2 separate regions of the Homo sapiens genome follow, and region 1 is linked to region 2. A link means that fine-mapping ties the variant in region 2 to the expression of a gene that starts in the linked region. Tissue or cell type: prefrontal cortex. Region 2 holds a variant in brackets; the other region holds the start of a gene. All regions are shown on one strand. Distances are from middle to middle.

The links. PIP is the estimated chance that this variant, and not a neighbour inherited with it, causes the effect.
Region 1: it holds the start of TM2D3, and the variant in region 2 is fine-mapped to the expression of TM2D3 in prefrontal cortex (GTEx, PIP above 0.99).

The regions. Positions count from the first base shown.
Region 1 is chr15:101,648,474-101,656,574 of GRCh38, forward strand. TM2D3 (TM2 domain containing 3) reads right to left here and starts at 3,908. Exons shown (of 6, transcript NM_078474.3): 1 at 3,798-3,908; 2 at 3,223-3,300; 3 at 1,531-1,688. The coding sequence starts at 3,888. It overlaps TARS3 (threonyl-tRNA synthetase 3), which reads right to left. Exons shown (of 19, transcript NM_152334.3): 19 at 5,123-6,257. The coding sequence ends at 6,109. RefSeq lists silencers at 3,496-4,055, 4,296-4,485 and enhancers at 4,146-4,205, 4,312-5,202.
Region 2 is chr15:100,781,201-100,789,301 of GRCh38, forward strand. The region is part of intron 2 of LOC105371024 (a long non-coding RNA gene); the gene reads left to right. LOC440313 (protein enabled homolog) reads right to left here and starts at 3,285. Exons shown (of 1, transcript XR_001751715.2): 1 at 2,761-3,285. RefSeq lists an enhancer at 870-1,499 and a silencer at 6,230-6,430. The variant T/C (reference allele first, on the strand shown) is at 3,088.

The sequences.
Region 1 (8,101 bases), 870 kb after region 2:
TTTAAAAAGTAGGTGACACATGTACATGGAACACATGTCAAGACACAACAGGAGAGTGAGAAGTGAGCCGGCCTCGTCTGGCCCAGCCGCCGGGAGCCCCTGCCCTCCCCAGGCCAAGTACGCTCTGTGCTTCCAGAGAGAGCTGATTCTACACATAGGCACATTTATGTCACCTACATTTAATGTTCCCCAATACTTTCACTTAATTTTGGACATCTATCAGTACATTACCTCTAGAGCTGCCTAGTTCTTTTTAATGGCTACAAGGTGTTTATTCTATTACACGTGTACCATAAATTAAGCAGTTCTTAGACATTTCACTTCTTTTGAATCTTTTGCTTTAATGAGCAATGCAGCTAAAAAATAAGCACACTTATCTGCATCCATGTATAATGATATCTATAACATAAATTCCTACATGTACAACTACGAGCTCAACGATTGTGTGCATGTGTAAGTTTAACAGATATGGCAAATCGCCTACAAGAGGTTGATCAATTTGATTACCTATTAATAAGATATGAGCATCTGACCCTTATACTCTCACAAACTCAGAGTTAATCAAATTAAAAAAAAATTGCCAATCTAAGGGTTAAAAATGTATTAATTAAATACTATGAGAAAACTTATATGTTTTTCATGTTATATATCTATTTGTATTTCCTTTCCTATGAACCATCTGCTCATGTCCTAACACTGTTTTTCTACAAGACTGTCATCTTTTCCGTGTGGGTTTTAGGAAGTGTTTATATATTACTGATATTACTGTATTATTTGTCACATATTCTAGAAACGCTTTTTCCTAGTTTGCCATGTCTTTTGCCTTTATGCTTTTTTTTTTAGGTCATGCAGAAATCTCCAATTTTTAGGAGTCAAATGTATCAATTCTTTATTTTATGGCTTCTAAACTTTATTTCATACTTAGAAAAATATTCTCCATTTTGGGATTATAACAGCAACTATCTGGTGTTTTCTGTGGTACTTCAGGGTTTCATTTTTCACATTACATCTTTGGACTATCTGGAATTTATTCTGGATAAGACAGGCGTTCCACTTAATTTTGTTCTAGAGAGCTACCAGGCATTCCGGCATTTACTGAATCCATCTTCTCACCACAGATAAGCACTGGCCCTTCAAAAGCTCATCTATGGCAGAAAGACACTGCCACCCCCTCTGTACACTAGCTGTCACTATTGAGAACACAGAATCCATCTGAACGAATTAGACTTGCTTCAGATATGCTAGTAGACTGAGATCTTCTCCAGTCCTACAAAGCAACATTTCTGTCAAGTGCATTTCCAGCAGACATCAACTGGCTTGACAGTTATCATTATAACTAAAACAGTAGTGAGCTGATATGGAAAGGTCTATTGGGTTTTTTAATTTATTTCTGCTTACATACTCAAAAGGGAAATCATAAAAGAATATAAAAATTCTTCAGAATTTCTTCCCAATAATCAAGTCTGAATTGTTCTTCTAACTTAAAGTTTACAATGAATTTATTTAGAATAAGTAAGCTGCAGTACTTACAACACAGGTAACAGATGGTTTCACTGCACAGTCAAAAGTGACAGGCTTCCCATAGGTACAGGAGAAATTTGTTGTGCAGTCTATACAGTCTGCAGGAAGCCTGCTACACAAACCATTGCTCGGACACTTCATCACATAAGGTGGGATTTCAGTACTTTCTGTGAGAGGCAAGAGAGAAGCTTATTCTCCTATAATACTGATTCGAATAACAGAGAACAATCTTCTAAGGTTAAGAGACGTGATCATTAGCAAGTAGACACTGCACTGGAAGGGAAGAAGCATGGGACTGGAGTCAGAGACACCTGCAATTAAAGCAGAATTCTGCCCACGGCCAGCTGTGGGACCTGGTGAGCACCACACTTGTAAAACATTACTTCATTCCTGCCTCCCACGTGGCCGTGAAAACTAAAGGTGCTCATATACAAATAATGTATAGAAAATTCTGGGTATACATTAAGGGCTTAAAAAAAAGACTATCATTTTGTAAGTTGAAAAAAAACTTACAGTAGGGTTTTGCAAAATCACAGAGGAAGTCTGTGGCAAAACTGGAACTAGAACCCAAATCTCTCCATTTCCAATCCCGTGTTCTTTTCATCTGAATTCACTAATTCAGAAATGAAGCCACTGACATCCTCAGGGCATCAACTTTAAAATGTCATTATTTCACACTGGTACTTCGATAAGCCACATTTGCTAATATAATATTTACAGTTTTACGCTACCAAAGTTCAAAACAGTTCTCTACTTTAATAACATCTTCAGTAAGCTGCAACTTATTTCCAACCAACCTAATGAGTGTGCAATGTATTTTTACCAACTGAAAGGATCAAAATTGCAAGTATTCCTGAAAAGAAGGGCTTTCAAAAGCCTGCAAGAGTTAAGAACTCTTGTGCTTTCTCTAAAAAGTAATCTGAGTTTAAAATTCAAGTGCACTGCTGTTTTTTACATCCAAATAAGAATCAGTAAAATATCTCTGCCAGTTTCAATTCACTGAAGTAATGTCACTTTAAAGTGATGAAATTATAGTCAGAGCCTCCACCTAGCAAAACACACTAATGCTTGTTTAAAACTGGTCCTACTTTACTCACTGTATTAAGGAACAATTCTACAAAATACTCTTTTTGATCCCGTGACTATGTGGCTGGAAGGTGGACACTTAGAATCACAAAGCAGAAATGACTTTAGGTCGTCAGACCAACCCCACCGCTTTAAAGATGAGGACCAAGGTCCAAAGAGGATAAATAATTTGTTCAAGATCCCAGTAGCAAAACCAGATCTAGATTTCAAGTCTCCATCAGTCCCGCTGTAATCCTTCCATTTCCACAGTCCTGAGGGAGCCTTTAATATTCCAACATCAGGAACAGGGTTTTAGCAGTAGAGGAAATTTGCTGAAGGGAAAGAAGCACGGACTGAAGGTTATTTTGATGGATGAAGTGGAAAAATAATAGAAATAAGGTGACAAATGAGCGTGGGATTGGAAAAAGAGAGGAGGCAGAAACGTCAAAAGGTATAAATACGAAGACTATCTACTGAAAATGGCTGTGTATCTACCCTTAATTCACATAATCTAAAATACAATAAATATTCAAAAATGGAAAGTGACTTCGTATACTAAAGGGAATTTTTATAAAAACAAAGAGAAACTACTAGAGATAACTACATGTATTTACTAGAATAGAAAACGTCTAGTACCTGCTGCCCTGGGAACTACTGTGAATGTGCGTGTTGGGCCCGGATCCTTTATTGACTGAGCCAGCGCCTGCGATTGCTCTAAATTTAAGGATCGTACAATTAGAGAAACACGTTATCCCGGGACAAGAAAACCTTATTTTGTGTGGTTAACACGGCGGGTCTACACCAGGCCAATAAGCTGCTCATGAAAACCTCACGGCTGGTCAGCCAGAAAACACAAAGCTTAGGGACGAAACGTCAACAGAGTAGACATCAGTTCAGGTCAGCCGGCAACGAGGGACCGAAGGATGACATCGCGCTCCAGTTCCGCCTCCCCGGCCCAGCCCCCAAGCGCTCCATCTCCGTGCCAGGGCTCCGCAGCCGCGATGGCGGGCTCGGTGTCGCCGGAGCGGAGGGGCGGCCTCGGGCCGGGCGGCCAGGGCGCCAGACTCCAGATGCAGCGACAAGCGGCCCGGAGCCCGGCACTCGGCCTCCTCCCCGCGTCAGCGTCCGCCCGTGGGCCCGGCCTCCTCGCAGCTCCCGGGGCCCTGCTGCCACTCAGCCCCACCCGGCGCTGAACCCAGCCTTTGACTCACCACCGCCCGACAGAATGCAGAACTGCGAGAGGAAGAGCAGCACGCGACACAAGGCGCGGAGGCCCCTCAGCGGGAGCACCCCTCCCGCCATCTTGCCAGCGCCTGCGCACTTCCGGGCCGGGGGGCGGGGCGCGCCTGGGAGCCGGAGCGTGAACTGGACGCAGGCGCGCTGCGACTCCTGGCGGCCGGCGTTTGCGCTTTCGCTGTCCTCGCGCGGGTCGCGGGTTTTCTTCCGGTTGAGCCTTCTGGGAGGTCCCCGAGGAGGATGCGAGCCTGGGAGGTTGTTCCATTTCCACGCGCCCCTCACGCCCTTGGACGAGGCCCTCACCCCTGGTTCCACTGCAGGAGACCTGTTAAAGGTCATCCGTGGACCGAAATGCGCGCCCGAAGCAACCAAGAGCAGAGGCGGGCGAACGCGGGAGGCTGGCCGCCCCAGTGTGTGGTCGGATGTTGTGTGCTGGATCTCGTGCGAAGGTTCCGAGGACACTATCGCGTGGCGTTTCATCCTAAAGACACTTATTTACAGTCGGGGAAGCGGCCCCGGGACGACGAGGGCCCGAGGGACCCCTCCCCTGGGGCCGGCGCTCAGGCCTGCCGCGGCTTTCACTTCTGGCCGGCCTCTTGAAGATACGCAGCACTTCCAGAAAGTTCCTCTCAGGCCTGGAGAAGCAGGATGGCCCGAGGCGCTGGGAAGTGAGGGGAGGGTCCAGAGCCCAGCCCTGCCTGGGGAAGGTCGCGGCCGTCTGGGGAGCCGCGCTCAGGCCCCAGCTTGCGGAGACCCTTGCCGGTTTCTGTCACAGCACACCTGGGAGAAAGCGCTGGTGACAGGTGCTCTCCTCCCACCCACGTGCTTCGGGATCGTTCATTCCGCGGTCTTCTGACTACCACCCCCTCACGTGCATGTTTGCTGAATGACTTTTTAAAAAATACATGGAAAAGTGCCGGCACATAAGCCCTGAATGTTAGCTTTAAAAATCGTATCACGGCCGGGGGCGGTGAATCACGTCTGTAATCCCAGCACTTTGGGAGGCCCAGGCGGGCGGATCACGAGGTTAGGAAATCGAAACCATCCTGGCTAACAACACGGTGAAACCCTGTCTCTACTAAAAATACAAAAAAATTAGCCAGGCGTGGAGGCACGCGCCTGTGGTCCCAGCTACTGGGGAAGCTGAGGCAGGAGAATCGCCTAAACCCGGGAAGCGGAGGTTGTAGTGAGCCGAGATCGCGCCACTGCACTCCAGCCTGGGTGACAGAGCGAGACTCCGTCTCAAAAAATAAATAATAAAAATCATATCACACAATCTGCACCTTATACTACTACACAAGCCTGATATATATTGTTTTGTTTGCCAACTGTTTCACTGTTCACATCCCTCAGGAAGTTAACTAAATGATCAGTATATTGAAAAGAGATTATTTCTTACATTTCTTTTGAATTTCACAGCATATCGCAAAATAAACAATACTTCTTGTTTGGTAGCTGAATTCTCTATTGACATAATGCCATTTTAATTCAGTTCTGAGCACGTAGAGCATTCCTCTCTTTAAAATCTGAAATCCATTTCAGTACATAAATCCATGGAATGTCATCCCATCAAAAAAGTAACAACTCTAGGTGAGCGGCTTAGTGGTGGTAGAAGCCCACAGCTGAAACGCTGGAAACACTGATGCAATTCATTTGGGAATTTATTTTTTTCTAAAGCGGAACAAAACCTAATTATGAATAAGAAACATTTAAATGGCAACTCTTAACCTATAGTGCAAACACCAGATTCCACAAAACTGAATTCCTTTGTCAGTAATCCAATATTTAGCAGTAGCTGCTGCTTTTGTGGTTGTTGGTTAGTTAAAATTAAGTAATGATTCCAGTTTAGAAGATAAAGTTTCAGTGTGAATTTTAGTAGAAGTCATAAAAATACCTGAGACATATTAGAAAATAAGATTTTCCCTCCTATTTAAAAAAAACTCTGCAGACTTTTATTTGAAGCCCATCTTTTGAAAATCACTAACATTTCATAATCATTTCCTAGTGTTTTGTTTCACTTTCTCGATGAATAATATTTCCCCATTTAAGTTTCTCAAGGCATTGATTGCTGGAAAATTTCCCACGTGCCCTCTAAACGTCCCCCGTGGACATGAGTAAATTAAACTTCGTGCATGTCAGCTACACGTTCATCGTCTCCTTTCTCAGCTGAGGCCATGAGTGGACCCATCAGTGGCTCCAAAGTCGTAGAAGTACTAACATGTTAAGAAAAATACATTTTTAAGGGTCAAAACAAAGTTACACAGAAGCAAATATCAGGGAAGGACTTCAAAAGGCCTCCTCAGCATTGAGTGTCCGTGTCTTCCTGAGATTCTTCAGTTTATCAATGGCAGAAGTTACTAAAATCTCTCCATGAATTTTGTTGTCTCTTGTTCGCACGTTTACAGCATTATCTATCTTTTCCTTTTCTCCAACCACTGCAGAAAAGAAAGGTAAAGAAATGTATTTTAAATCAGCAATTTACCAAACATTAAGTCAGCAGTCCCATGACATGTTTTTATCAAGTTTTTCTTCACTAATATTAAATATCATCTAATGAGCATTTGGTTCATCCTCTGATAGTTAAGTTTCTTGAGGGAAGCAATGACTTCTGATCCCATCTCTCTATTGTCCACCTGAGAGAACAGCTCTTGTGGTCCTGGGGTGCAGATGAGAGGGGGGAGCTCTTACAGACTCACACTGACTGCACCTGGCACTAGGGCGCAAATGAGAGCGGGGAGCTCTTACAGGCTCACAGTGACCCCACCTGGCACTAGGGCGCAAATGAGAGCGGGGAGCTCTTACAGGCTCACACTGACCCCACCTGGCACTAGGGTGCAAATGAGAGCGGGGAGCTCTTACAGGCTCACACTGACTCCACCTGGCACTAGGGCGCAAATGAGAGCGGGGAGCTCTTACAGGCTCACACTGACCCCACCTGGCACTAGGGTGCAAATGAGAGGGGGGAGCTCTTACAGGCTCACAGTGACTCCACCTGGCACTAGGGCGCAGATGAGAGGGGGGAGCTCTTACAGGCTCACACTGACCCCACCTGGCACTAGGGTGCAAATGAGAGGGGGGAGCTCTTACAGGCTCACAGTGACTCCACCTGGCACTAGGGCGCAAATGAGAGCGGGGAGCTCTTACAGGCTCACAGTGACTCCACCTGGCACTAGGGCGCAAATGAGAGCGGGGAGCTCTTACAGGCTCACACTGACCCCACCTGGCACTAGGGCGCAAATGAGAGCGGGGAGCTCTTACAGACTCACAGTGACTCCACCTGGCACTAGGGCGCAAATGAGAGCGGGGAGCTCTTACAGGCTCACAGTGACTCCACCTGGCACTAGGGCGCAAATGAGAGCGGGGAGCTCTTACAGACTCACAGTGACTCCACCTGGCACTAGGGTGCAAATGAGAGCGGGGAGCTCTTACAGGCTCACACTGACCCCACCTGGCACTAGGGTGCAGATGAGAGTGGGGAGCTCTTACAGGCTCACACTGACCCCACCTGGCACTAGGGTGCAGATGAGAGCGGGGAGCTCTTACAGGCTCACGCTGACTCCACCTGGCATACCTGATGAGCCAAGGAGTGGACACCAGACCCATGCGAGCCAGCCAGAACTTTCTGGAATGTGGGTAAAAAGTTTGTTCTCTCTAGTGACCCATATTGTGAGATGATGCAGGAATCTACAGCCATGCTTCTTGCCACACAGAAGGAAGAAACCGGTCTGCAGATAAGTGGAATAAGGTAGATATTCAAGAGAAGCATAAAGAACCAGAGCAAGACAGGAACGAGAAATGGGGAGAAATACTCCTGGTGAGGGTTGAGCTCCTGATTGCTCTTCTAGTGGTTTGGCTATTTAATTCTACCTTTCATGTCATGGGATACTCCAAGACCCTTCCAACAAATGCTGTCTTTGTCTAAACCAAGTTGAGATTTCTGCCACCATAAGAAGCCTGACTGAAACAGCACAATACCTACTCTGGTGTCAAACATTATCATTGAAACACTGTCAATAGAACAATGCTATGCATATTTATTTCGCCTTCTACAGACTCTCAACTTACAAGAAATAGCAATACTGTGCCTGCAGTTATATCAGTGTTAGTTTCTCTTAATTTTGGAATCATTTTTAAAGCCTAAATTTTAGATTCTGCATCTAATTAGTCATATGCTAAAAGGACATTTTACTTTTCATCTAAATCTTTTCCTTTAGATCATTTTAAATTTGGGATCTTTTCTTTCTGTTAGTTTAATCCCAAAGTTTCCTAATAAGCCAGA
Region 2 (8,101 bases):
CAGGTGCCCCCAGGAAACCCCATCTTTCTCTCTTGGCACATCCCTCTCCCCCGGGCCCTTCCAGGGCTTCTTTCTCACCTTTGTTTTGTCCAGGGATCTTCCAGTCCCTGGTGGGTGTCAACAGCTCCCAGCTGAAGAAGCAACACCTGGGGAGATCCTGCATCCCAGAGGCCTCTCTCTGGAAGCAAAAGGCGTGGGGAGAAACACCCACACCCCTCCTTTCCTCCTCTGTGCAGCCCCTCTGTCCTCTGAGAGAGGACTGCTGGGAGTGGCCACTCACCACTGCAGCTGTTCCCAGGGGTTCTCAGGGATCTGTTTCTGTCTTTGCTGAAGCCCACAGTGCACACATCAGTAACAGCATCTACCAAATAACTTATCTAAAGAGATAGAGGAAAGCAACTCTCAAGCTAGTAACAAAAGGTCACCTCTGTAGGGCAATCTCTGTCTGCCCTGCCCCTGCCCATTCAGCCCCTCTGATGGGCCAGGCACTGCACCAGCCCAGGGGATTGCTGTGCTGGGAAGGCCTCTCCATTCTGGTCACAGTGGCAGCCTGGGATCCCTGCTCTCCATCTCCCTAATGAACTGTGACTCTCCTGGAAAGCATCTGTTTTCACGAAACGTAACCACGGAGGAGTGGGCGAATGGAGAGGGGAGGCCAGAGGAGCTCCCTGGGAAGGCGCAGGCAGTGCCCTCAAGGCAGGTTCACCCTTTCTGCAGCCAGGGCTGCAAGGAGGGACAGGCAGGACTCGGGCTGCAAGGAGGGACAGGCAGGACTCGGGCTGCAAGGAGGGACAGGCAGGACTCGGGCTGCAAGGAGGGACAGGCAGGACTCGGGCTGCAAGGAGGGACAGGCAGGACTCGGGCTGCAAGGCATACTGAGGCCTCCAAGGGCCAGAGGGAGCTGACCCGCTTGCTCACCCTGGCTGGGGGCCACACCCTGGCACATCCCACAGCATTCCATATCATGGGGGGGGTTACCCTGCTGTTCCCTGGAGCTGGTCCCCTCTTAGGCATGGTGTGCTATGAGCAGGGCCTGGGACCCTCCTCAGGGGTCCTGGCTTTGTGAGGGAGAAAAAAAAATGTGTCTTCTACCTTCTTATGTTCAGTGACTGAGGTCCTGCAAATTAAACTGACAAAAGGCAATTAACAAGAGAAAAGAACAGATTTAATTATATACATATGCGTGGGCATTCACAAAGAAATGTGACTCTCTGAGGTGGTTAGCATTTGGAGCCTGTGTAACATCTTAACAAAGAGCCATAAATTGTGGAGATGTGGCCAGCATGGTGGCTCATGTCTGTAATCCCAGCACTTTGGGAGGCCAAGGCGGGAGGATCACGAGGTCAGGAGATTGAGAGAAGCCTGACCAACATGGTGAAACCCCATCTCTACTAAAAATACAAAAATTATCTGGGCATGGTGGCACATGCCTGTAATCCCAGCTACTCAGGAGGCTGAGGCTGGAGAATCACTTGAACCCGGGAGGCGGAGGTTGCAGTGAGTCGAGATCGTGTCACTGCACTCCAGCCTGGGTGACAGAGCAAGACTCTGTTTCAAAAAAAATAAAAAAATTGTGGAGACATGACAAGACAAAGGAAAAATGTTTTGAGCTTCTAGGGATGGCAAATGTGGAAAGGGATACATACGGGGGAAATAATGGAAGATAAGGGTTGTTAAAGGTTATGACTATTCAGGTTGGTGCCATCTCCGGTGATGAGTTGTGGCTTCTTTCTGGTACAGGAGAGGGGAGGAGGAATCCTTCACAAAAATGAATTTCTGGGCCAGGCACCGTGGCTCATGCCTGTAATCCCAGCACTTTGGGAGGCCGAGGCAGGTGTTGAAGGAGGAAGTCAGGAGTTCAAGACCAGCCTGGCCAACACGGCGAAACCCCGTCTCTACTAAAAATACAAAAATTAGCCGAGTGCGGTGGTGCATGCTTGTCATCCCAGCTACTTGGGGATCTGAGGCATGAGGATCTCTTGAACCGAGGAGGCTGAAATTGCAGTGAGCCAAGATTGCTCCACTGCACTCCAGCCTGGGTGACAGAGTGAGACTCTGTCTCAAAAAAAAAAAAAGATAAATTTCTGCCCTCCCTTGAGGCAGATGGGAGCATGGGGAGTAGAGAGCTTTTTCTGCATCTGGCTGTTTCTCAGTTGCCTTCAGCTCAAAATAATCCTTATGTCAAAGCGGCATCCTTTGGGGTGGCATATTCTGATGCTTTCACACTCCTGCCTCCGTGCCTGTGATCTCCTCATCATTCTGCCTTTGCTCCAGAAAGCCGTGCATGATGGTGCTGGGAGTCTGGCCACAGAGATGAGATTCCCAGCTTTGCCTGTCATCAGGGGTGACATCTCAGCCAAGGCCAGCCCCCTTCCTAGGCCTCGGTTTCCTCTTCTGTAAAGCAGAGAGGAACACGGTGCCTACCTCCTGGCGGGCAGTTACGAGCACTCCACAACAAGATAAGGTGAAGTAACAGCCTGTGTGCACCAGGTTCTCCTTACATACTAGCTAGATGCATGACAGAAAGCTACATTACAGAAAGGGACAATGATGTTCACAGTGACTTCTGAGCCAGGTAGCACATCACTCCCAAACACTGCCGTGGATATTCTCTCACTGAATCCTTATAATTATGTTCTTTTATGGATGAGAACAGGAGAGCTTAGAGACATTTGCTGCCTGGCCCAGGTCCCATAGCCCACGCCATGGCTCAGACTCCCAATCCCACGCTGCCTCAGACCCGGGCTACCCTGCCCTGGCTCACTGAGATGGTGAGTCCTGCTGTTCCTTGGATGGTGCCTGCAAGCCCCAGGGAGGTGTGGACGGAGGGGAGTTTTGCAAAGGGGTGGTGCTGCCCAGATCGGGGCTCCATATGGGCAGAGGGAGTTCTGGAAGGTTAGAGATTCCCCAAAAGACAAGCTGAGGAAGGGAGACAGCAGCAAGGCCAGGAGGGAGGCCAAGGAGGCAAAAGACGACAGGATCAGAAAGAGGCAGGCAGGAGGCCAGGGCAAGCTGCAGCAGAGGGGCAGACTCCGTGAGGTCAGCGCTGCGGGTGCAGGGTGCAGAGCTCGATGAGACCCGGGATGG[T/C]CGCAGCAGAAAGCCTGCGCCCTGGAGAACTGGAGGAGGCCTGGCGCATCCCCACTGCTGGCAGCTCCTTAGAGGCACTGGCTCAGCAGGAAGAGGAGGCCAGCCAAACACCGGGGCAGGTGGGGTGGGCACACAGGGAGCAGCGGGGAGCCAGATGGGGAGAGGAAAAGAAGCTGTCCCCAAACATGGGCAGAGCATCCTCACATCTGGTCAGCTACACATGGACGAGGACCTGTGGCTCTCAGGTCTGATGATCCCCAGCTCTGGGGAGGGCTGGAGCACAGGGGGCTCTCCCACTGCTGGTGAGAAGAGAAGCTGACCGTCTGCAGCACCTGCCAAAGTGAAGAAACTCAGTTCCACCCCCAGGTACTTTTCTGGCAGGCACTGTGCACAGGTGCACCTGGAGACAGGTAAGAGGATGTTTATGGGGCAACCTTCCTAAGAGCCAAAGATCAGAAGCAACCCCGAGTCCATCAATAGCAGAAGAGAGAAAACAATGGAAGAGAGAAAACAATGGTTGTGTTCATGTAATGGGCCATGCACGGAACTGCAATAGGAAATGAGCGAAGACCAGGCAATGAAATAGAAGGATCCCCCAAACACACTGAGCAAAAGAAATCAGGCACTGACGAGGACATGCCCAGTGATCCCAGGGGCAGAAAGAGGCCCAACTCAACTCTGGTGCTTAAGAACTTGTAAGTAAGTGATAAACATCATTAAAACCAAGTACATGACTGTCACAAAAGTCAACGCAATGGTTTCCTCTTGGGACAGCTGAAGGATTCCCAATGAGACAGGCTCTTGGGGGCACTCCTGAGTCAAGGCAATTAGCCGTTTCCTATGGCATAGATGTGCTTTCAAATTCTACGTTACGTGGCAAATATCTGCTATATGAGTTTTCTGTGATGTGTGACCAATCACACTTACACAACAAAGAGGGGTGGGGAGTGGAGAAGCAGCCATCACCTCACCTTTCAGGACCTACAGAAGGAAGGGTTGAATGAAGCCAGCTTCCCTGATCCAGTGATGTAGACAGAGTGAGGAGGAAGGGAAGGGCCTGCCTGGGGCCAGCTGTGATGTTCAGCATGAGGTGCTACCTGGTGGACATGCCAAGGTGCCACCAACCATCAAGTGGGCCACAGGAAACAGCTGTAAGATCTGTAAGATGCAATTATGTCAGGGAAATGGTGACTTCAGAAGGTAGGCAGGCAGGTGGGTGGATCATATTTGCCTATGGATATTGGAAACCTCATTCCACGTGGATATGAGTGACTGTAGGAAGAGGCCCAGCGTCACAAGCCCCTCGGCCCCGCAGGAGAGCCCAGAGCACCTCAGCTGTAGCTGAGAGCTCCAGAGCTGTAGGTGCCTTGTGCACCAGGGCGGTGGGAAGGCTTGGAGGGAGGAGCACCCAAGGTGTCCCTGTTCCAGACCAGGCGGTGTGCAGAGGCCCTGGCAGGGGACGATGCTCACAAGCCCCTAAGAAGCTGGGCTCAGAGAGGTCAGTGAGTTGCCCCAGGTCCAGGGGCTGCTCACAGGCACTACTGACTTTCAGCTCAGGTTTTCTTGGCCCCAGGAAGTTGTTCTTCCCACTATGCCATGTCATGACTCATTCATGGAGTGAATTTCTTGAAATACTTTTAGTTTCAAAAACTAATTCGAAACACCTTTTGTTGTTGTTGCTGTTGTTTTACTTTGAGGGGGGCGGTTAATGGGCTTTTACATCAATTGAGATTTTGTCTGAAGCCCTAAGTGAAGATCAGTTCTGCATTTGGACTTACCTGCCCATTTGCAGATGGTCAGGCCCGTTTCAACCTGAGGAAATCCCTAGATCAATGTGATGTGAGAGTGTGTGTGAGAGTGTGTGAATGTGTGTGTGTGTCAATGTGTGTGTGTACGTGTGTGTGAGTGTGTGAATTTGTATGAGTGTGTCAATGTGAGTGTGTGTGAGTGTGTGTGAATGTGTATGAGTGTGTGTGTCAATGTGTGTGAGTGAGTGTGTATATGTGTGTATGTGTATGTGTGTGTGTATGTGTGAGTGTGTGAATGTGTGTCAATGTGAGTGTGCTTATGTGTGTGAATGTGTGTGAGTGTGTGTCGTGTGTGTGAGTGTGCGTGTGTATGTGTGTGTGAATGTGTGTGTGAGAGTGTGTGTGCGTGTCAATGTGTGTGAGTGTGTGGGTGTGGGTGTGTGAGTATGCAGGCGTGTGTGTGTGTGAGCATGCAGGTGTGTGTGAGAGTGTGAGCATACAGGTGTGTGCTTGCTGTCCTGAAGTTAGATTAGGCAGGGCCGTCTCATCAAGCCTCCAGCACAGCTGTTAGGGGCTGAATTGTGTTTCTCCCGAATTCATGCACTGAGGCCCTAAACCCATTCCTCAGAATGTGACTATTTGGAGACAGGGCCTTTAAAGAGGCAGTTAGGTTAAATTGGGGTCGTTAGGGTGGTCCCTAACATGATCTGACTCGTGTCCTTACAAGAAAAAGAGATTAGGACACAGACAGGCACAGAGGAAGGATCACATGTGGATATGGAGAGAGGGCGGCCGTCTGCAAGCCCAGGATGGTCTCAGAGAAACCAGCCCTGCCGACGCCTTGATTTGGGGCTTCCAGCTTCCAGAGCTGTGAGAAAAATCAAGCTGTTACTTAAGCCTCCCATTCTGTGGTGTTTTGCTACGGCAGCCCGAGCTGGCTGAGACACCAGTCTCCAGTCCCTCAGGGCTGGGAAGTGGGTGCGTCCCACCTGCCTTCACGTCTTCTCCGGCCCACCCTTCACGAAGATTTTGCCCCAGGGAGGAGCCTCACGGGTCACCTGGCCAGATCGCCTCTCTAGACCCAGGTGAGGATCGGCCTGCTCCAGCTCACATGGCCCCTGGTCGACCTGCTGCCACCCTGGAGGCAGAAGACTTCATGGGACGGGGTGGGGAGCAGACCTGGGTGGGCGTCATGAGCCCACAGAGAAAGATTCTCCATCACAGCTACACAGCAGAGTCCTGAAACTCAAAAACATGCCCCTGCCGGGGTCTCCCCAGAGCAATTAAGGCAGAACCATTGAATAGGGCCCAAGCCTATGCGCTCGCTTTGTAACTTCTCCGGGGACCCTAACGCGCAGCTAGAGCTGCGGCGCCCGCTGAAGGCGCATCACGGACACCTGGAGGCGGCTGTGGCTCCTGCCGCCTGGGTGCGCTTCTTGTGCTGGTTGAGCGTGCTCCTGACGCCAGCGTGTAGGCTTCCTTCCATCCTATTGCTAAATCCTCCTTGAGCAATCGATGCCATCCCCCTGACTTTTCCGGAGAAACCCCTCGGTGGCTTTGCTCTCCATACGGAAATCGCGTGCCATTTCTGTTGTCACTGATTTCTCCAGACATGTTGAACACGGGCTCCTGTCCCTCCCAGCACCACACCTGCTGCCTTCCCCACACACCCAGATGGGATGAGGTCAGCTGCTCTGGGAGCAACACAAGAGCCCAACCTGCCCAGGCTGCAGCTTCCCCCGCACAACTGCACCCAGCGCCAGGCTGGGGTGGTGTCCATGCAGAGGCGGCAGCTGCTGTGGGGAGCCAGGCAGGCCGGGGTCTAAAGTGTGGCCCAGCCACTGACTAGTAGAGTGGTAGGGGTCAAGCAGCCTCACCCAGTGAGCCTCAGTTGATTCCTGTGTAAAGTGGAGCCAGGGACACCCAGCCCCTGGCTTTGATCAGGTGCCTTTGTTACTTTACCTTTTGTCTCTCTTGCCTCGCACCCTTTTGGCATCCTGTGATGGCAGGAGATTCCCATGTTGCTAAGCAGGCTTCAGTCACAGGGATCTCCCCTCAGTTCCCCGCCAATCTCTGGAAACTCCCTCTCCTGCTTTTCCTTCTGAGAATCTCCAGAGTCAGTTCCTGCAAGGCTCTGCCAACCTCCAAGCATGCCCCAGGGCTGGGATGAGAGGGAATGGGGAGGTAAGAGGCCCTGTGCAGGTGGGTTGGCCGCCCATCTCTCTGCCCCTGCTACTTCCCCTGCAGCAGTTTGGGGTCCCACCAAGGGGCTGCACACTGCACCTTGCCTTCTTGCTCACCGGCATCGGATGCACCGGAAGGAAGCAAGCTCAGCACTGCCCACGTGCTGTGCCTTTGTGTAGATTACAGAAGGTGCCCCCCTGGGCAGCAGCAACCCCTGGCATGGTGTGGCAAAAGTGGCATGAGCTGGATTTCAGGTCCAATTTGCCTCCTAGCTGGGCACATTTGGCCCAATGCAACTACACAACTGAACGGAACAGCCCTGAAGACCATCGCCATTCAATCATCACCCAAAGAAACCATTTCTAGCAAGGGAAACAGCAGCTCACTGCAAAGCCTGATTCTGCAGTGTCTCTTCCCAAGCCCTGCATCTGGAGCATGAACTGGGGGGAGGTGATGCCCATGGGATTCATCCCTGTGTTTCCTCTCTGACACACAGAGAGTGGGGTCCTGCACAGGATGGGGGCTCAGAAGCAACAGGCTGAGCCAGTGCTTACACTGTGGCTCTGTCTTTACTGTGTGGGCTTTCTGGGTGATCGTGCCTTTCTCCGCTCTGCGAACAGTCAAGTTAGCATCCCTTAGCAGACACACAGGACCTAGAAGACTGTGTGGGCAGATGCAGCAATATTGAGGCAGAGGCCCCCAGGCAGGCTCCTGGATGCCTCAGGTAGAGTTCCAGAATGAAATGCCTATGAATGTGTCTCCCAGGACAGCACAGGGTTTTACTCTCGGCTTCCCCTTGAAATCTGAACTCTTCTCTTCCTGTTGCCCTCCACTGTCTTGGCTATGATGCCCTGCCCATTCATTGATTCTGCCAGCAAGCATCGAGCACCTACTATATGTGCTTGGAGGAGCTCACCACAGGGGAAGGGGAGTTAGAGAGGGAGCCACCTTTCCAACTGACATAGGCAGAAAGGAGTTTAGGAAAGACGGCTTTCTGGAAGAAATACAGCCTCCACTTGGCAAATGGCTGCTGTGCACCAGGCCTCATAACAGGAGGGCCGCAGAGCTCAGCAAAGGGAATC